Regions from separate parts of the Homo sapiens genome. Here region 1 is linked to region 2. The links come from fine-mapping of genetic effects on gene expression. A gene starts in region 2. The other region holds a variant in brackets. All regions are shown on one strand. Distances are from middle to middle.

The links.
Region 1: its variant is fine-mapped to the expression of TBC1D17 in monocytes (Quach 2016, PIP 0.95).

What each region holds. Positions count from the first base shown.
Region 1 is chr19:49,896,430-49,899,156 of GRCh38, forward strand. IL4I1 (interleukin 4 induced 1) reads right to left here and starts at 458. Exons shown (of 8, transcript NM_152899.2): 1 at 406-458. RefSeq lists an enhancer at 1,388-1,567. The variant G/A (reference allele first, on the strand shown) is at 1,772.
Region 2 is chr19:49,876,361-49,879,368 of GRCh38, forward strand. It overlaps TBC1D17 (TBC1 domain family member 17), which reads left to right and starts at 1,342. Exons shown (of 17, transcript NM_024682.3): 1 at 1,342-1,384; 2 at 1,783-1,881; 3 at 2,138-2,212. The coding sequence starts at 1,364. It overlaps AKT1S1 (AKT1 substrate 1), which reads right to left and starts at 995. Exons shown (of 5, transcript NM_001098633.4): 1 at 877-995. RefSeq lists enhancers at 1-575, 159-798, 979-1,318, 1,536-2,495 and a silencer at 1,539-1,828.

The sequences.
Region 1 (2,727 bases), 20 kb after region 2:
TTTCTTTCCTTTCTTTCTTTTTTTTTTAACAGTCTTTCTCTGCCATCCAGGCTGGAGTGCAGTGGTAAGATCTTGGCTCACTGCAACCTCCGCCTCCCAGGTTCAAGAATCCTCCCACTTCAGCCTCCCAAGTAACTGGGATTACAGACACCCATAACCAAACCTGGCTAATTTTTGTATTTTTAGTAGAGACGGGGTTTCGCCATGTTGGCCAGGCTGGTCTCGAACTCCTGACCTTAGGTGATCCACCCACCTCGGCCTCCCAAAGTGCTGGGATTCCAGGCATGAGCCCCCGCGCCCGGCCTCTTTTCCCTCTTCCTCATCTCCCCAGCTCCTGACTGCTTCTCAGTCCCTATTTCTGTGGGTCCTGTCTCTCTGTCCCCCCACCACTGGCCGTGTCACTACCTCCAGCTCTTGGTGACAGCAGGACAGCGCGGTCCTCTCCACTGCCCTCCACTGTCTCTGCTGTGGCCCTTTCTCTCCCCTTAAACTGGCAGAGCCCCGCCCACCCCTCCTTTTGGGAAACTGGCCGAGGGAAATGAAACTGGTTTCCTGGAGCTGCTCTGGTCCAATGCTCAGAGTCTAGTTGAGGTTGGAGAAAGGGGGTTGGAGGAAGTTAATCAGTCTATTCACTTCCTTTTGCCCCAGATAGTTCTGGGGTGGTTTGGAGGCCAGAAATAGATGCTCAGGTAACCGTGCCAACAACGGGGAATCCCCTTCGGTTTGCCCCCGTCCCTGATCACCAGGCCACTTGTTTCTATCCTCCCCTGCACTCTCTCTGCCTCCTTGATTCCCACGGGGACAGAGGGGCTACAGGTCCCTGGGCCAGGCCAACTTTCCCCTCCAAGTCCCTCTCCGTCAGGTGTCGCCATGTCCTGCAGGGCCCCCCATGGTTCCACTTCCCTCTCCACTTGCCACCCAGAGCCTCAGTCTCCCCCTCCGTTACATGGGTGTAGCAGTGGGGCTGGCAGCCGTGGTCCCGGGGTCAGGACGTGGGCTCTGAGCCCGCCCTCCCCTCTGTGGCTCTCGTCTACAGCTGTCAAATGACGTCTACAGACGTCACAGTGTTTTAGGATCAAGTGAGTGAATCCAGGTTAAGTTCTGTGGCCGGAACCTGGGGTAGTACTGGAAGCTGCTCCTTTGGAAATGCCAGCTGCTGTGGCCGCAGGGGCACTCAGGGGTTCTATGAGTGACCACCCGGCAGAGGGAAGCGCCCAGGCTTCACCCATCCCTGCTTTAAGAACCACCTCAGTGCTCAGGGCAGGGAGTGGGGCGGCACCTTGGAGTGGGTGGGGGTGGAGAAACAATAGCAGGGACTTTCCTTGGGGTGGGGGAGAGGGAGCCAGGGGCTCCGTGAGGAGGAAAACCAGAGGGAGGCAGATTCTCTGCAGCAAGGGTTGGGTGGGGGTTGGAGGGCATTAACAAGAAGGAAGATGGGAAACTCCCGCAGTAAATCAAAGAGGGATGCGGTTATGGCCGGGAGGGGCTGGGGGGTGAATGTGAGTAACAAGGCATGTGACGCAGGGGCGGGAGGCCGTGGCAAAGGGAAATGATCAAAGAGCTGGAGAGTTCAGGGACCGAAAGAGCTTGGGTCAGCAAAAATAGTGACGAGGGCCAGGGGTGGCTCACGCCTATAATCCCAGCACTTTGGGAGGTCGAGGCAGGCGGATCACCTGATGTCAGGAGTTCAAGACCAGCCTGGCCAACATGGCAAAACCTCGTCTCTACTAAAAATATAAAAATTAGCCGGGCATGGTGGCATACGCCTGTA[G/A]TCCCAACTACTCAGGAGGCTGGGACAGGAGAATTGCTTGAACCCAAGAGGTGGAGGTTGCAGTGAGCTGAGATCGTGCCACTGCACTCTAGCCTGGGTGACAGAGCCAGACTCCATCTCAAAAAATAAAAAATAAAAATAAAAAATAGTAATGAGGGCCGGGTGCGGAGGCTCACTGCTGTAATCCTAGCACTTTGGGAGGCCGAGGTGGGAGGATTGCTTGAGCCCAGGGGCTCGAGACCAGCCTGGCCAAGATGGCGAAACCCTTTCTCTAAAAAAGAAAAAAATAGTGACAAAAATGTTCCCATGGCGATCACCTGCCTTGGAGGCCGCCTGGTGCTCAGGGCTTTGCACCCATCGTAAGCCTCACAATGCCTGCATTTGAGGCCAGGCACAGTGGCTTACGCCTGTAATCCCAGCACTTTGGGAGGCTGAGGTGGGCGGATCACTTGAGGTCAGGAGTTCAAGACCAACCTGGCCAAAATGATGAAACCCTGTCTCTACCAAAAATATAAAAAATTAGCCAGGCGTGGTGGTGCACACCTGTAATCCCAACTACTCGGGACACTGAGGCAGGAGAATCGCTTGAACCCGGGAGGCAGAGGTTGCAGTGAGCCGAGATTGCACCGCTGCACTCCAGCCTGGGGGACAGAGTGAGACTCCGTCTCAAAAACAAACAAACAAACAAACAAAAAACCAACAACAATGCCTGCATTTGATAGTTGAGGAAACTGAGGCTTGGAGATGGCGAGAGGGTGGGACAGGAGGACCCTGGGGCACAGAGAGGGGAAAAGGCTTGGCCTAGGTCTCAGAGTTTCATTCACAGCGACATGTCAAGTATGAACGCGGCGGGATTGGGGCCTTATTCGCCTGTGCCTCGACCTGGGTCCCACAGTGGGGAATGGCAGTGCTGGCATTCCTCACCAGGTCGGGTGGGCCCCAGGTCCCCGGCCCCT
Region 2 (3,008 bases):
AGAGATCCCAGGCGCTCTGGAACCGCAAGGTGAGACTGTCTACGATTTGCCTCAGGTCTGACAGGACGATTCCCACGGGCGACCCCCTTCCAGCGCTCAGCAAAGGATCGCTGGCAGACCTCTGCCCTCTGATCTGTGCAGGCCATACCCCTCCCGTGAGCCGCTCGCCCTCCCAGCGCCCCGCTGCCTCAGGACGGCCAAATCCTCCCCACACCGCGGTTAACAACGCCGCCTCCACTCACGTGCCCGTAGCCAGCATGGCCGGCCCGGCGCCGTCACCGCCCTCAAAAGACATGGCGGCGCCTTGCGTCACGTCCGCGCAGTTGCCCCGCCTCCTCTCCGCACACTCCGCCTCCCTTATCGGGGCCGCCCGAGATCAAGATGGCGGCCACAGGGGCTTCATCCGAACCAGTTGACAAGGGTGACGACAGCTTGCCCCTAAGAAAAATGGCCCCGCCTAGAGCATTTCCATTTGCCCCCAACAATAATGGCCGTCCTCATATGCTCAATCATGACCACAGTAAACGAAGGCAAGCGACCTGACGTCCCTGACCCACAATAAACTTCTTCGACAAAAGTAGAGGAAATCGGTGCTCGTTAACAACATGGCAGCCAACCGGGCTTAATCAGCCCATAGTGTATATTGGCTCTCCCTCCCTCCAACCTGCTCCCATTCGGCACGAAGGCTGGCAAAGATCCAACACGGCAGCATTTCTTGCTTCGGTTTGCCAGGCTTCAAAATGGCGGCTCAGCCCGCTTTCTCGCGACGGTGACTCAGAAATTCGTCCGGGGCCGCTTCGTTTCTGGGGGCACTGACGGCTTCATCCCGTTATCCTGAGTCCCTCAGTGCCTCTTGTGGTGTACAGCTCCTCTCACCTCCTCTTCTCTTATCCGTTCGGCTCTTCCAGCTGTCGCGCCCCGCAGAGAGATGGGACAGCCCCGTATTAACATGGCCTTAGCTGACCGGCTTAGGCCATGCCCTCGAGCAAAATGGTACCTCCTTGGCTTCAATTCCAGTATACAATATGGAGAAGGAAGTGGGCGTTTCAAGGCGTGCTTGCCCCAGGTGGTGCAGCTCTCAGACCCTCCCACTTGTTTACTTCGTGGCGAGAGGGCGAACACTGCGCCTGCGCACTCTCCGTAGCCGGATCCACCTTCAGCGTCTGCGCCACGTGACTCCGATCCACCCTCGAGGTTCCAGTGGAATAACCCCCTTCTGAAAAATGGTTTCACCCGCTCCTTCTCTAGAACGGGTCGGGCCGCTACCACTGTCCGGCCCGGAGGGGAACTGTTTTCTCCGGAAGTGACAACACGCTGACTAGGAAAAGGAGGAGGCGGGGCAGTGGGGCCTTCGGCGGCGACTATGGAAGGAGCCGGCTACAGGGTAAGCACTGAGGACGCATTCCCTCGCTTCAGTGTATGCGAAACGCCCCGTCTAGTGATCAGCTCTTCTCTCAGGCCTTGGCTCTCGAGAATCCGGCACGGCCTTGGCAAACACCGATCTCTTATAAACGCGCCGTCACCCTCCCGTCCACCGCCCCAGGGAAGAACCTCCCATGGCCCCGCCCCCCCGGCTCAGGCGACTCCTTGAGCCCTGCCCCCTGTGGAACGCACGTCAGCATCCGAACGCGGGCTGGACCATTCTCCCCGCCTTGGTCCCGGGGCAATGGCCCTCCCGGCCCCGCCCCCTGAGGGTGGCTCCTCCCTGGGCCCGTCCCTATTGGCTCCCCAGGCTGGTCCCCTCGCTTGGGCCCCAGCCCTCGCTGGTTCCCCCCAACTCAGGTGGTGTTTGAGAAGGGCGGAGTGTACCTGCACACCAGCGCTAAGAAGTATCAGGACCGAGACTCTCTCATCGCTGGTGTCATCCGTGTCGTGGAAAAGGTGCGCTGGGAGGGAGCAGGGCTCGGACCCGCTCCGAGCGGGATGCAGGCGGTCTGGGATGCAGGCGGCAGCTGTAGGAGTTTGGTCTGGCGGTCAGCAGTGGGACCTGAAGAAGGCTGGGTGTGGGAACTGGAATGAGGGGCGGGACTTTGAAAGGCTGAGGGTAGAAACTGGGAAAGTTTGGAAATTTGCAACGGAAAGTTTTGGGAATGTGGTTTGGGGAGCGCCTCTAACCCCGCCTCCCTCCTTACCCTAGGACAATGACGTCCTCCTGCACTGGGCTCCTGTAGAGGAGGCTGGAGATTCCACCCAAATCCTCTTCTCCAAGAAGGTAGGCTCCACCCGCTTTGCCCTTCTCCACTCGCTTTTTTTCTAGGTCCGTGCTGTTGTAAGTCATTTGAGGGACCTGCGTACAATCCCAGACCTACTCGTGGGGCATGTGTGACCCTGTTTAGGCTTGGGTACTCTGCCTCTCCTTTTGCTCCTCTCTGTGAAATGGGCAGAGGATGCCCATTCAAGGAAAAAGAGCAGGGAGCATAAGACGCACGGTCGTGGGGACGGCTGACCCCTCTCTCCCTTTGCTTCTTGGGAGATCCCTGCCAGGGTGCAAGATGTGGATTCGAGTTGCTTGAAGGGAAATGGCATTTCCTCTGGTGCCAGAGGACAGGGCCTGACAGCCTACTCACCCACTTCGTCACTGCTCCCGGCTTTCCCTTCGTTATGTCTCCTGGGACTTCCCATGGCTGGACCCCGTCCTGGGCAATTCTGAGACCCAGAGATAAGTCAGATCCAGACCCACCTAAGCCCTGACCCTTACTCACTTTTTGAGAAACTGATAGATGAGGTCGAAAACGCTAGGAAGTGTTGGAACTTTTTGCACCCAGACAGTCTGATTCCAGATCCCCAACGCTTCCTGGGAGAGCAGACATTTGAGCTGGGACTCCCAGGATATGAAAGGACAAGAAGGTATTTCAGGGACAGCAGAACAACCTTCAAGGCACACGGAGAAGTTGGATGCCTCTGTAGGGGGGTTCTTTAGTGGGGAATGAGACCTCCATTGGAGCTGATGAGTTCCACCCAGGGGCCGGAAGTCAGTCGGCACCCACAGAGCTAGTGACGAGACACTG